Linked DNA regions of Homo sapiens. The protein of the gene in region 1 purifies or fractionates together with the protein of each later gene. This does not show direct contact. Each region holds a gene or a part of one and is shown in the gene's direction. Other genes may lie near its edges.

Region 1 (4,184 bases):
CCCAGCTCGTGATTTACATACAGAGAGCAAATAAATGAATGGAGTGGGGGATGGGGCAGTGAGAAGCAATCTGTTTCTTTTTCAACCGCAGAAAATAAGATTACTTACCAAGAACATTTTTATCCAGGGCAAATGTTTATTCCCTCTATCATTCAGCGCCTCAGTCTCTGCAAGAAATCAATTTCCACTCTACCTTTCCCTCCTATTTCTAAAAAAGAGAGTGAGGCGGATAATTCTTAAGCTTCGGGGTCCGGAGGAAGATAGAGCTAGAGCGGAGGGCAAAAGACTCCCACAGCGCTCTTTATACAGATCCCAGCTCTGAGAGCGAACCCATGGGGAGGGGGCGGGGGATCATCTCTAAGGAGAGTACTCCGAGTAGGGAGGGGGATTCATTCTGCAGCCAAAATATAAATCATCTACAAACAGATTACTAGCCTCTCAGTCACACAGGCAGTTCCCTTGGGAAACCGGTTTCAAAGAGGAAGAAGTTCCTGGAGAGAGAGAGAGAGAGAGAGAGAGGGAGGGAGAGAGAGAGAGAGAGAGAGACTGGGGTTTGGACTTGCAGAGGGAATGGGGCCAAGGAGAGGAATAGGGAGAAGGAATAAAGCTAATCTTACCGATCGATCAGGCGATCGTTTGTTCAGTATTGGGACACGAAAATGGCAAGATAATGCATTCGGCAGCAAAGCCATTTCTGGCACACTCTCTCTCAGTTACTGCAGGAATCAGAGGGGAAGCGGGCGCCTCGAAACCTACCACTTGCTCCCCAGGGACCGTCCTCAGAACCTCCAAAGCTCTAGCTTCTAATGCAAGGCGTTCGGAGCTGAGGGTTCAGGTGGAAGTCAATTGTCTTGAGTCACAGGCAGCAGGAACGCCAAAGAAGTGGGACCTGGGAGGGCTGCTGCCGCCGCTGCTGCATCTAACCACGGTTCCCCGTCCCCTTGCCTAAGCCTCACCGGCACAGCGCCCCCGAAAGCGCCTAGCGACTCGGCCTCCTCCGCATCTTCAGCCCTTCGATCACCGCCCGCACCCCCCACCCCCCACCGCCTCGTGCAAATCGCTGATGATTTGGTCATCGTAATGTGACCGGTCGTAGTGGTTTATTTGGGGAGTGGGGGAATTGGTTGTGTTGGGCTTCCTTACTACGCCTCCCTCAGTTGCTGCAAGTGAAAATGTTCAAGGGAAATACTAGTGAAATGCACTGATGGAATACTATTAATCCTAATGATAATGGTCCCAACGCAGGTAACTCTTAAAGAACTGAGAGTGGGAAGATCAGAGCAGGATTTCCGAAGTGGTGCCCTCTTGAATTCTCATTGGATCCTCCCCAGCAGCCTAAATCATTCTTGCTGCTATATCTATCAGGATGACTACAGCCTTGCTCACTAGTTCTCTCTTTATCTCGTTGTCTTCAACACATCCTTTTACTTCTCTTTGCAGATTTATCTGTATTCCACCTCCTGTTCTCTGGGGTTACACAGCTTCTGCCTTTCCCCACTGTATGGGGATGTGCAGCCTGTAAATTTTCACTTTGCTTAAGGATCACCACGAATCACCCCCCACCATTCCCCACCCCCCCATATAAAGCATTTTCACATTCTGCTTTCTTGCCTTGGGGGTTCGTGGCTCTCTGTGTAACTGGTTTTTACTTGGTTACATGCCACCAGGAACTGCTGATTATTTTAAAGTCCTACTACCCTGCAGCTCACTACTTTACCTTGATTTGGAAGATCATGGAATATCTATTTGAATCCTGGATGTATTTTTCTCACAGTCTTCTTGCTTCCTGAAATTTCCTCTGGTAAGTTATTCTCTTTATCTGTTACTAGAAACTTAACTATTGCTATTTTTAATAAGCTCTGTTTTGTTGAAGTATTTCATTTTTCACATTTTTGTTACTTTCAGAACTGAAAGATCCATATGGCCATATTTATTAATTAGTATGTTAGTGGCAACTGCACTGCTAAGACATAACCCATGTAATGTATTACCCCAATATCCCATGTATTACCCCAATATCTTTTACCTTCTTTATTTTTAAAATATTTGTCCTCATTTATATTATGGGTTACACGGACATTAATCGCCCCCACCCCCATTAACCCTTCTTGGCACACATTCCTGTGCCATTTGAAATGTCACATTTTATAGGTTTATCTAAGAGAGAGCTTAAAAGAGACCTTCTGACAATTGCAAGGTCTGGAAAGTTCGCTAGTCGGATATTCAGAAGGTTGTTCAGGTCAGCATTTGTTCATGATAAGCAATTACATGACTGAAGGAAGACTTTGTTGCAAAGTGTATTTTTATGAATTTAGCAAGACCTTAAGCACTAAAATGCCACTGAATGGTAGGAAGAGGACTGTGAGTTTTGAGGGCACCATTTTTTTTTCTTAAAATATTTCAAATCACACATAAGCACGTTATTTTAGGCATTGTATTTTAATTCAGGCATAGTATTTGTCAGTACATTTCTGATTTTGTGAATTAGCTGGTGAACAGTTAATTGGACACAGAGTACTCATTTCAGAGAGGAGCAATCAGAAGAAACCCCTGATTATCTTGGTTCTGATAAATTGAAATTCAAGAATAGACTTTACATGAAAAATTTAATTGCCTCACTCTTCATACTTGTCTGCCCCCAACCCTTGTGTTTAATAGGCATGTTAATATGGTCAGTGCCTTTTGCTTTTATGAACATTTCTATGGACTTAACTGACAAGATTATCACCTCCTCTTCCGTATAGTTGTGTTGAGAAACATTTTAATCTTTACTTTTACTTCACAATTGACACATAATGAGGAAAGCACGATATTCATTAAATGCCAAACCTGCATGTATCGGTAATTTTTAACACCCACTGAGGGTTTTCTCTGAACATCCGCCCCCCGCCCTCAAATTAAGGACAAGTTCCTGGTCTCTACAACATTTCCTTTTCTTGGGATACATGGAGGTAAGAACCTATTGTTCACGCTTTTCTTTTCCTTTTTTTTTTTTTTAATTTCTGGGAAATAACTATTCTTGTCGTCATTGATGGCTGACGCGACAACCCAAGCAATGTTTTTTTAAATTCAAAAGCCCTTTTAGCTCCCAGACATAAAAGTACTCCAGCTGCAGCGTCGCCCCATCCCCCCGTCTCGGGATTCAAGGGCTTTTCCCCCTTGACTCCCACCGAGAGGGAACGGGGGTTGAGACTGTGGTCCGCACCACTTGGCGCCCCTCACCCGTCACTAGGTCACTAGTTTCTACCTGGTCTCTTTCCCAGTCCGGTCGTCCTGCCTGACAAGCCAGTGCCATCAGAGTCCGTGACTTCATTTGAAGAAAGGAGGGCTTCATATAATTCAATTCAAACATTCTCTTTGGAGGACTGCTGTTGTTGCGCAAGGGTGGAGGGAGGAAAAAAAAAAGAAAAAGAAAAAAAAAACTTTCAGTACAGTCAGATCCAGTAAGGAACAGACAGTCAGTATTTAGGTAAGTGCGTTTTGCTGTATTATACCTGAAGCTCAAGCGTGTGAAAGGGAAATTTACATCTGAGGGGCTCCCGCTGCCAAGAACGTTTTAACTGGAGGGTTATCAACAGGCGACTCTGCGTGGAGATTTCTCCGCAGCTCACGGCAACGCCTATGCCACCTGAGCTCAGGGAACGGAGGAGAGCAAGGTGCCTGGTTGACCAGCTGGCCCCAGGCTTGGTGTTGATGTGGGAATAACCCATGCGTGTAGGAAAGGTGTCCCCTACTCTGACCTGCTAGCTCAGGCTCTGCACTCAGCCCCTGCAGCGAACGTGTGCTTGGTGTGGGCATTTGCAGCCCCATAGAGTGGGGTGCGCCAGGGGGTTTCCATCCTTCCAGAATGCTCCATTTCCAACCTTCCTAAGCCAAACTTGAGCAAACCTCTTCTGTATGAGAGAATAGACTTAAGATCTCTGGAGTCTCTTAGTACCTTTTTGCGTTAATATTTATTTATTTTAATGAGCTATATTTAACGTTAGTAAACGACGATTCCTCAGAATGCCTGCTTTATAAAACCCTAATCACTGTCCTTGTCTGACTGCGAAGTAGGGTTTAGAACTGTTGAATGACTTCTTAGGCTCTGTGTTAAAGTATTATTGCTGACGGTCACTCCTTCCTTTCCTTCACCAACTCCCAAGAATCTGGAGGGCGGTGGGGAGAGCGGAAGAGAGTTAGAT
Region 2 (3,500 bases), on another chromosome or scaffold:
CTGCTGAATTTCTGGGGGCTAATCAGCTGCAGGCCCTGGCCACCCACTCCTGTCCTTCCCCCGGATGAGTGTCTCCAAGTGTACTCTAGGCTGGTCCTCCAAAGCAGCCCCCTGCTCCCCGCATCATCAGTTTTATGTACTGGGGCTCCATGTGAGGTTTCTTTTGACAGGAGTGCTTTCCCTAAACAAAGGTTTGGGAAACAGTCTAAGACTATCGATGTGTGACCAGAAGACAGTGTCATTGGCCTAGGGGTCATTTTCCCGTAAGGTTCTCAGTGAGCTAGGAACTATCAGTCAGCTTGGGTTACCTCAATGGAGGCTTTCACACATTAGAAAAAGAAGTGTTCCTTTCCCTGTAGACCAGGAATTCAGAACGGTCAAAGATCGCCCAAACTGCCTTCCCCCCTCTCTAGCCAAAGTCAGCTGAAAACGCAGTTGGAGCCAAATTCTTCCCCAGATACTCCATTTTAGTCACCAGGTAAAAGACACAACCTGGAAATTGCCACCTTTGTTTACTTCCTATTTTCCATAATTCTGGGTCCATAACCACCTTCCAAATGAATAAAATCCTTGGTCTGAAAATGAAGCTCGCGTGGATCAGAATGTCCCAGTGACCAGGAATCAACTAGGAAGCTGCCTTCCTAGCAGGACGTGCGGGGCAGGGAGGAGAAGGGGAAGGAAAGGGAAGAAGGTGATAGGGACTGGGTCCCACACCAGAAGGGCTGAGTGGCCTCTCTCCCTGCAGCTGTTCGAAGGGAACATGCACTATGACACCCCTGACATCCGAAGGTTTGACCCCATTCCGGCACAGTATGTGCGGGTATACCCGGAGAGGTGGTCGCCGGCGGGGATTGGGATGCGGCTGGAGGTGCTGGGCTGTGACTGGACAGGTAAGATGACATTTCCTCCTCTTTGCATCTCACCCACATGGTCCTCTGACCCTGGCATCCCACGAGGCCCTGGGAGGGCTGTGGAGGGGGCAGCCATCCCAGGAGCTGGAAATGCTGCAGACCCCTGCCATGTTCTCCTGCCTCAGACCACGGGTACTGCAGCCTCTGGACTTGGGACAGTTTCTCAAGGGATGTACTTTGTCTTTTTTAAGGGATCATTTCAGTTCTCCAACCCGAGTCTCTCAAAAACAAATCATAACCACACACCACCCACCCAAATTCAATTAGACCCTGGCTCTTCAGGCCAGAGGGCTGTGGCTGTTGATTTAGGGAAGAAAAAAACCCCTCATGATAATAAAGTAATCGGTTTATGTCTGAATCTGGCCTCCAGATGTCAGTGGCTAAGAGACTTCATTTTCATTTCGGAGCCACATCTGTAAAAGGCATTTATTTGCTCAGGAGGGACCCTGTTGCAGGGAGCTGATGGGGGCAGGACTCCTTCTCATTGTCCTGCTCATTCCTGCCAGGTGGCCCAGGCCTTGGGGAACACCTCTCATCATTCCAAATGAGGGTGAGGCCCACGGAGGGTGCCCAGCCTTCCTGGTTTCCGAGGGAGGGCCCTGCCCTTCTGAGTCAGGCCCTACCTTCCTTTCCTTGGGTCGCCAGCCCTCCTCCCTCAGCAGAGCTGGCACCAGATCTTACCCAGAGCTCACTCACTGCCTGCCAAAAGGAGTTTGTGGGAGCCACTGGGGCTCAGGGACTGAGCCTGATGCCAGCAGGAGCAGCCACCAGCCTGAGCTATCCTGCCCTCCTCCGCCAGAGCCCCAGGTATCCCCATTTTCCTGTCTGTGCCGTACCTGTCACGGGCTCAGCCGGCAGGATGGCATGAGGGATTAATAAGGGCATGTCGGAGAAGTGCTTTTGGCTCCCAGGGAGAAAAATGCTGCCTGTATGCTGGCTACAGCAGCGCAGAGGAGCCCTGTTGAGGCACACGGGCTGGGAATTGGGCCCAAATTAGCCTCCTCACTTTTGAATTGAAGGCAGCCCCAGCGAACACATCTTCATAGGAAGACACTTAACTCCCCATTACCTGGGGATGAGGCCAAAGTTCCCTGCAGCCTGCTAAACGTGTGTCACCCGTCCTCTCACAGGTGCAGAAAACCTCCCCCCGATACAAGCTGGCTTCATTTATGTGCCCTGGAATCAGGGGCTCAGCGCTGTAGGGGATCCAGGAGCTTGTAAGCCAGTGGCTTTCACACACTTCTGCCCATGATACACAATTTAAAATAATTTTCCTTCACAACCCGCTTCACTTATAAGCACTCACACACAGTGGTGTATACGGGGTACAGTGTATGGGTAAGTGCTTGGACTCTGGAGACAGATTGCCAAGTTCAAGTCCTGCCCCTGCCATTGGCTGGCTGCATAACCTCAGAAAAGTTAGTCTCTCAGCGCCTTGGTTATCTTAGCTGAAAAATGGAGAGGACAATAGTCTGTCTACCCCATAGGGTCATTGTGAGGATTAAATGAATGAATGGATGTGAAATACTTAGACTACTGCCTGCACCCAGCAAACCTGTTATGATAAATAACTGTAACTGAAACAAAAGGTTCCCAAAGCAATGGTCATCTTAACCATGGAAGTGCACTCCAAAATATTATAGTCGGTATGTTTTAAAAGCTGGTCATGACCTATTCGACGGATTCCACAACCCAATGATGAGAGTGATGCGTGGTTTGGGAAATATCACAGACCTGGGCCAATTCCTCTTTCATAGACAAGGAAACAGCCCCAGAAGGTAGAAGTCACTTGCCAGAGGTCACTCAGCTGGATGAAGTCCACCTCATTCTTCCCCCCATCCCTTGCCCTTCAGTGCCATGCCCTCCCAGTCTGGCCAGTGGGACAGTTGCTAATGACCTCTTTCCTTCATTGCTCCCCAATCCCAACATGCCCCAAATTACACTGGTGATGGTCAGTGACAGGTTTCTTATTTCAAAGCCCTGCCTGGCCATTCCTTGGAAGATCAGAGTTGAGGAGCGTTCCCCTCTGCCCAGCCTCCTTTCCTTTGAAGTCTCTGACATCTGGTTTCAATTTCAGGGGTAGCGTTGCTGTTTGATGGGCAGTTACCTTGGAGCACCCAGTACAAACATAGTACAAACAGTATAAACACCGAGGCCTCGGTGCCCGCCGTTCCTCCACTTTCATTTACACGCCCTGCCCTCCGGTGCCTCATTGGCCCCTGGGTTTAACATTCTTTACACCAATCAGCTGACCCATTTTGCTACCTAACATTTCCAGAAACTGTTCTCCATAGGTCACGTGGCTATGTTTGCTTTTCGAATTTCCATCTGTTTCTCACACTCATCTTCGGTTCACTTCTTCATCCCTATCCCAAAGGATAACAGGAAAAATAATGGGCTGGGCTGAGCTGCTGCAGCTAAATACTTTGACAGGGCTGCTTCACCTGTTAGTTGGTTTGTGTTTCAAATAATTATGTTTTGCCTTACTGCCCCATAGTTTGCTTTACAATCGAGTTTCTATGACACAGTGACAAACTTGAACTTACAAATTAGGACACTTCGAGGTTATTTGCTATTTACTGTGAGCAA
Region 3 (3,500 bases), on another chromosome or scaffold:
ACATGAGCCAGGCGTGCTGGTGGTTCCTGAGTATGTAAAATTCTGTCAGTCTAAATCTACAGACGCACCTATAGTCCCAGCTACTCAGGAGGCTGAGACGGGGGCCCGGAAAGCTCAAAGCTTCAGTGAGCCGTGATCGCGCCACTGCACTCCAGCCTGGGTGAGAGAGCGAGACTCTGTCTAAAAAAGAAAAAAAATTGAATAAATAAATGGAGGAAGATAGACAAATCAGTTTCTAGAAGAATTATAAATATTTTGAGTAGCGAAACTCTCTGTCTCTTAAGAATGGGCTACATGCAGTGACTTCCTTACCAAGAATACAGTACAGGGAGGGGTGAAAGTAACCTGACTGTGAGGAAACCTGGCAGATACTACCTCAGTCACGTGGTCAGGAGCAGCGTCAACATCGATAAATCGTGTTGATTTTACCCGCTTGCTACGGTGTGGTGGAAACGACTCTACCTCTGTGGCTTTTCTCCCCAAAACAGAACCCCAATCTAATCAGGAGAGAAACGTCAGATTCCAGTTGAGGGACATCCTACAAAATACCTGACTAGTACTTCTGGAAACTGTCCAGATCATTAAAAGCAAGGAAAATCTGAGAAACGTACATTCCAGAGGAGCCTTAGGAGACATGACAGCTAAATGTAAGGTGGTGTCTTGGAAGGGATTCTAGGATGGAGAGAAGGCCTTGGGTAAAATGAGCAAATTTGAGTGAAGTATGGACTGTAGTTGATGATGTGTCAGTACTGGTTTGTTAGTTGTATCTAGTATAATGTACTAAAGTGAGATGTTAACAGTAGGGGAAGCTCTCTTTGCAACTTTTCTGTAAGTCTAAAAGCATTCTAAAATAAGGTTTATTTTTAAAAAGAACCCCCTTCATGATAGGTTCTCTCCCAGGATGTGCCCCGGCCTTACCGCTGTCCCTCAACCGCTGTGCTCCAGCCACGTGGTCTCTTTCTGGCTTCCCTAATCTAGTGCTTCTCTGCGGGGTGTGACTTTCTGCCCTAGAGGGTGTTTGGCAATGTCTCGAGATAGAGGTATTTTTAGTCATCACAGCTGGGTGATGAGGGGGATGCCACAGGCTTCATGCTGGTGGGGACCAGGAATCATATTGAACACTCTACGTTTCCCCAAAGAATCTAAGAGTTGCCCAGCATGTCACTAGTGTAAGCCCTGACCCTTTGGATTTAGGGTTCCCTCTTTTCCTTCAGGTTCCTGACCCTGGTCTCTCTTTGCCCTGCTTTAGTTTTCTCCTTAGCACTTAATTATCAGCATCGGATATACTCTGTTTACTTGTCTGTCTGTGTCTGGCCAGGAAATGTATCTTCCATCAGGACTTGTTGGTAATTTGGTTCACTTTTGAATCCCCAGCGTCTAGAACTGCACCTGATACATAGTAGATGCTCATTAAACCTATGTAAAAGGAATTAAATAATTAATGAAAGGGGTGAGTGGATGATAAAGACAACACATACTCATGCTAAAAAAAAACCACAGTAGAGAAAAATGCCACAGTAATCATTCCCTCAGCTACCTGTTTCTCTACCGGTTCTCCAGAAGTTACCACTGTTAACAGTTGCTTGTCTGCCTAGACTTTTCTGTCCATTTTAAAGTATATCCGTGGGTACATTGTATCTACCCCCCTTCTCCTCTCTTTTAAATAAACATAAATAGGATCAGCTTCGTTTTTCCAGTTTATATAGCTAGACATATGTCAACATACAGAGTGCTATCTTTTAATGGCTGCATGATAACTTTATACGTAGAATTAAGCAAAAATACTTCTAGTACTTGCAATAGAATCCTGGTATAATATTTTGTTGTACAATGGATGATGGTAAAAATGTCTCCTAAAACATAATGTGACTCCTAAAACAAAAGACACTGCTTGCTAAACATCATCCAAGTGTTTCTGGTTTTGTTTTTTTGTTTTTGAGACAGAGTCTAGCTCTGTTGCCCAGGCTGGAGTGCAGTGGCGCGATCTCGGCTCACTGCAATCTCTGCCTCCCGGGTTCAAGTGATTCTCCTGCCTCAGCCTCTGGAGTAACTGAGATTACAGGCTTGCTCCACCATATCCTGCTAATTTTTGTATTTTTAGTAGAGATGGGGTTTCACCATGTTTTGGCCAGGCTGGTCTCGAACTCCTGAGCTCAAGGGATCCGGCTGCATTGGCCTCCCAAAGTTCTGGGATTACAGGTGTGAGCCACCGTGACCAGCCTCTTTATATGTATTTTTATTTCTAGTTTGTAAATCCCTTGGGATTGGGATCTTTGTCTTTTATTCCTTAACACCATGCAAGGTTCTGTCTGATAAGGTCCTCCATACCTGTAGGTTGAACTTTTTATTTGTTTTGATAAAATTACAAGATTATTTTATAATATTCAAATTTCCCTGAGTATTAGAACTGTTGACTAAATGGAGATACTTAAAGAGATAGTTTTGGGAGAAAATTGTTTTCTTATTTTGTTTAAATGATAATTGTTCTCCTAGAAGCCAAAAATCTGTCTAATTTCTGACTTTATCTGGAGAGGAGAAGGCATCATAGCTAAAGAACAAGTTAGGGTGGCCAACTTGAACGTGGTTCAATATCAATTAAGCTTTAATTGCTTTAAGCACATCAGGTCTTTTTTTCCCCCTAAGGCAATGACTTATGGGGCAGAGTTGGCAGTAGCTAAGTTAAGATACTATAAATTAATGTTGTCGTACCAATTTCAACTGGGCTGTCAAACCCACCCTCCAGTTTGCTCTTCATTTACCTCTGGTAGCATTCACATTTTGTGAATATTAATTTGAGAGTCACTTTGCAAGATGACAGTGCTGTCCTTTGTGAAGCTGTGTTGATTTACAAGATGAATTTGTTGGCAAAGGGGAACAGTTGATCTGAAAATAACTGTCCTGCTTCCCTGGCCAGACCTCAGCCCAGTGGACTTCGCCCACCTTCCCATTTGTCATTGTTAAAGGCAACGTTTTCTTCATTTCTTCAGTTTCTCTCTTTTCTCCGCCAGTCACCCAGGGACTGTCCTGCAGAGTCTGCCACCATGTATTAATAGACTGATTTGACCCTTGACGTGTGTTAGCTTAGAAGATTTAGCTTTTGTGTGTGTGTGTCATCTTCTCATGGAGGGGCCCAGGGTGACAGGTTGTTCGATGCCCTGAAGATAGGAGACATTCTGTGAACAACTGGTTGTTGACAGCAGTGGTGATAAAACATTGATATAGTTGGTAAAGTTTGCTTCACTGACTTAGAGAGGAAAAATGCTGTTTGACATCAGGCTGCTGAATTCTGGTTTTTCTTTTGTAAATTGCCTTTCTTTGGGGCTTATGTTGCTGATAAGTATTATACTTGATATAATTATTTTAATACTTTTAAGTAGTTACATAGAGCGAAATGAGACAATAAACCCTTACATTATGTAGGGAGTGAACTTAACCATTCTTATACAGAAATAATATAATTTCAGGATACATTTTGAAATGAGATTACAAGCTGTTCTTAT
Region 4 (3,500 bases), on another chromosome or scaffold:
CTTCCTAAAGATACTTTTATTTTTTTGTTCGTAAATAGTCTTAAAATAATCTGCATTATAAACAGACTTCCCTATTATACATTTTATTTTAATCTTTCGAACCTCTGAAACCTAAGAAAAAAATAGCATTTCCTTGGTTTGTATAGACCTGTATTATCCAGCACAGAAGCTGTAAGCCATGTGTGACTACTGAGCACTTGAAATGGGGCTGGTTCAAACCGTGATGTGCTGTCAGTGGACAATTCTCATTGGATTTCAAAGACTATATATAAAAAAAAGTAAAGTATTAAACATTTTAAAGTATTGATTACATGTTGAAATGATAATATCAGGAGTTTAGTTAAATATATTACTGGAGTGCATTTCACCTATTTCTTATGTTTTTAATGTGCCTACTAGAACACTTAAAATTACATATGAAGCTCAAAATATATTTCTGTTGGTCAACTCTGACATAGACTGAGAAAGAGAATCAAGTTCAGGCCCTTTGAAAACATGGCCTTTTACCACTTCATGTGTGACCTTGAGCATTGCCTCTGAAACAACAGTCCCCAGTAGCCAATGTGACTTTAAATTCTGCCCTTTGCAATCTGTTCTGCTCTGAAATCTTCAGTGGCCCCCAGTTTCCTAGCAAATCAAAAATACTTTCTCATTTTCAAGCCCCCTGAAACCAGCCTCCCTGGCTTTTTCTACGCTGCATTTCTGGTGATCACAGCTCTAGTTAGTTTTCCATTCTGTGAGCATAACATGTGTGTCTTGGTGTCCTCACACAGGCTCTCAGGCCTCACAGGTAGTACTCACTAAACTTGTGGAATAAATCTGGAATTTCAAGGCTCAGTTGTGGCCCACTTTAATTGTTGTAGGCCTCACCGACATCCTCTTTCTGAATACTTGAATGTGATCATTCCTACCCTTTCTGAGGGCCTGCTTCAATGCCAGGCAGTATGCTAGCAGTTACGTAAGAAGCTGCTGTTCCAACTCATTTTGCATATTAATTCCTTTACTCCTCACAACCCTGAGAGGTAAATATTACTAGCTCTATTTTGTAGGTGAGGAAACTGAGCTATGGAGAGGTTAAGTAACATGCCTAAGGTCACACAGCTAGTAAAGCAGGCAGAGCCAGGATTTGACCTCAGAGAATGTGGCTTCAGAGCTCATACTCTTGACTGATTGCTACCGAGCTTTTTAACCGCATATATTTTCAACGCTCACAATAACTTTGGGAGGTAAGTCATAGGATCACCATTTTGCAGTTGAGGAAATAGTCTGAAGCAGTAAATAATGAGCTTAAAGTCGCAAGCAATAGTGACTTAGCTGAGATTCAAATTCAGATAATGCTTACTGAAGAGACTGCATTCTTTCTTCTACTATTTGTCCTTTTTGACTTCTTAATTAAAATGCAAACTTTGAAGATAAAAACTGTCATCTTACATATTTTCTCAGTAATCTTACAGTGCGTATCACAGTGCTGAGCAAAATGGTGCTTGATGCATGGGACTAATCTTAAGCATATTTTACTGTATTATAAATTATTGTAAAGTTAATGATTCTTGGATGATGTGAATGTTGACACTACTAAAATGAAATATTCCATTCTTCTGGTTGGTAATGTTGTTTTACTGTATCTAAAAAATCTGCATACTCGTGTTTTGAAGTCTTTACTCTGTTTTTCAGGTACTATGAAGCATTTCCACCACTTTCTGAGAAACCAGTTTGCCTGCAAGAAATCATGACTGTGTGGAACAAGTCTAAAGTCTGTTCTTACTCTAGCTCTTCTTCATCATCCACAGCCCCACCAGCTAGCACAGATACTTCCTCTCCTAAGGACTGCAACAGTGAAAGTGAAGTCACCAAGGAAAGAAGCAGTGAAGTACCCACCACTGTGCATGAGAAAACCCAGAGCAAAAGCAAAAACGAGAAGGAAAACAAATTTAGTAATGGCACAATTGAAGAAAAGCCTGCTTTGTACAAAAAGCAAATCCGACATAAACCTGAAGGAAAGATTCGCCCTCGCTCGTGGTCTTCTGGCTCCAGTGAAGCAGGCTCAAGTTCCAGTGGGAATCAGGGAGAATTAAAAGCATCCATGAAGTATGTTAAAGTAAGACACAAGGCACGAGAGATTCGAAACAAAAAAGGGCGGAATGGGCAAAGCAGGCTTTCTTTGAAGCACGGTGAAAAGGCTGAAAGGAACATTCATACTGGAAGTAGTAGCAGTAGCAGCAGTGGTTCTGTCAAACAGCTGTGCAAGCGGGGTAAGAGACCTTTAAAAGAAATAGGGAGAAAAGATCCTGGGAGCACTGAAGGAAAAGACCTGTACATGGAGAATAGAAAGGACACAGAGTATAAAGAGGAGCCCTTGTGGTACACCGAGCCAATTGCTGAATATTTTGTTCCTCTGAGCAGAAAAAGTAAACTAGAGACCACATACCGAAACAGACAGGATACAAGTGATCTGACATCAGAGGCAGTGGAAGAATTGTCTGAATCAGTGCATGGTCTTTGTATCAGCAACAATAATCTTCATAAAACATACCTCGCAGCAGGTACTTTCATTGATGGTCATTTTGTAGAAATGCCTGCAGTTATAAATGAGGATATTGACCTCACTGGGACCTCATTATGTTCTCTACCAGAGGACAATAAATACCTGGATGATATTCATCTATCAGAATTAACGCACTTCTATGAAGTGGATATTGATCAATCCATGTTGGATCCTGGTGCCTCAGAAACAATGCAAGGAGAAAGTCGGATTTTGAATATGATTCGACAGAAAAGCAAAGAGAACACAGATTTTGAGGCAGAATGTTGCATAGTGTTAGATGGTATGGAGTTGCAAGGGGAACGTGCAATATGGACAGATTCTACCAGCTCCGTAGGTGCTGAGGGCTTATTCCTGCAGGACCTTGGCAATCTGGCTCAGTTTTGGGAGTGCTGTTCATCCAGCTCCGGTGATGCTGATGGGGAGAGTTTTGGAGGAGACTCTCCAGTTAGACTCTCTCCCATCTTAGACAGCACAGTGCTCAATTCACACCTGCTTGCTGGCAATCAAGAGCTCTTTTCAGATATTAATGAAGGATCTGGTATAAACTCTTGTTTTTCAGTGTTTGAAGTGCAATGCAGTAATTCTGTTTTACCATTTTCTTTTGAAACACTCAACTTGGGAAATGAAAATACAGATTCTAGTGCTAATATGCTTGGGAAAACACAGTCTAGATTGCTAATATGGACCAAAAATAGTGCCTTTGAAGAAAATGAACACTGTTCTAATCTTTCAACAAGAACTTGTAGTCCATGGTCCCATTCAGAAGAAACACGTTCAGACAATGAAACATTAAATATTCAGTTTGAAGAATCCACACAGTTTAATGCCGAAGATATTAATTATGTAGTTCCTAGAGTCTCGTCAAATTATGTAGATGAAGAACTTCTAGATTTTTTGCAAGATGAAACTTGCCAGCAAAACAGTAGAACTTTAGGTGAGATTCCTACATTAGTTT

What was found. Proteins that work in one complex are often made in the same cells at the same time.
Region 2: the proteins of BRINP3 (region 1) and NRP2 purify together in Homo sapiens (affinity purification with mass spectrometry; 2 studies listed by BioGRID and IntAct, with this or other methods). This does not show direct contact.
Region 3: the proteins of BRINP3 (region 1) and FAT1 purify together in Homo sapiens (affinity purification with mass spectrometry; 2 studies listed by BioGRID and IntAct, with this or other methods). This does not show direct contact.
Region 4: the proteins of BRINP3 (region 1) and KIAA0232 purify together in Homo sapiens (affinity purification with mass spectrometry; 2 studies listed by BioGRID and IntAct, with this or other methods). This does not show direct contact.

Annotation. Positions count from the first base shown.
Region 1 is NC_000001.11:190,475,065-190,479,248, reverse strand, and holds the start of BRINP3 (BMP/retinoic acid-inducible neural-specific protein 3 isoform 1 precursor), read left to right. Parts: upstream 1-1,384; 5' UTR 1,385-1,801; intron 1,802-3,261; exon of another isoform or gene 3,262-3,469; intron 3,470-4,184. UniProt on the Homo sapiens protein: Inhibits neuronal cell proliferation by negative regulation of the cell cycle transition. Promotes pituitary gonadotrope cell proliferation, migration and invasion, when overexpressed. May play a role in cell pituitary tumor development.
Region 2 is NC_000002.12:205,745,001-205,748,500, forward strand, and holds part of NRP2 (neuropilin-2 isoform 2 precursor), read left to right. Parts: intron 1-745; coding exon 746-890; intron 891-3,500.
Region 3 is NC_000004.12:186,710,357-186,713,856, reverse strand, and holds part of FAT1 (protocadherin Fat 1 isoform 1 precursor), read left to right. Parts: intron 1-3,500.
Region 4 is NC_000004.12:6,859,227-6,862,726, forward strand, and holds part of KIAA0232 (uncharacterized protein KIAA0232), read left to right. Parts: intron 1-1,674; coding exon 1,675-3,500.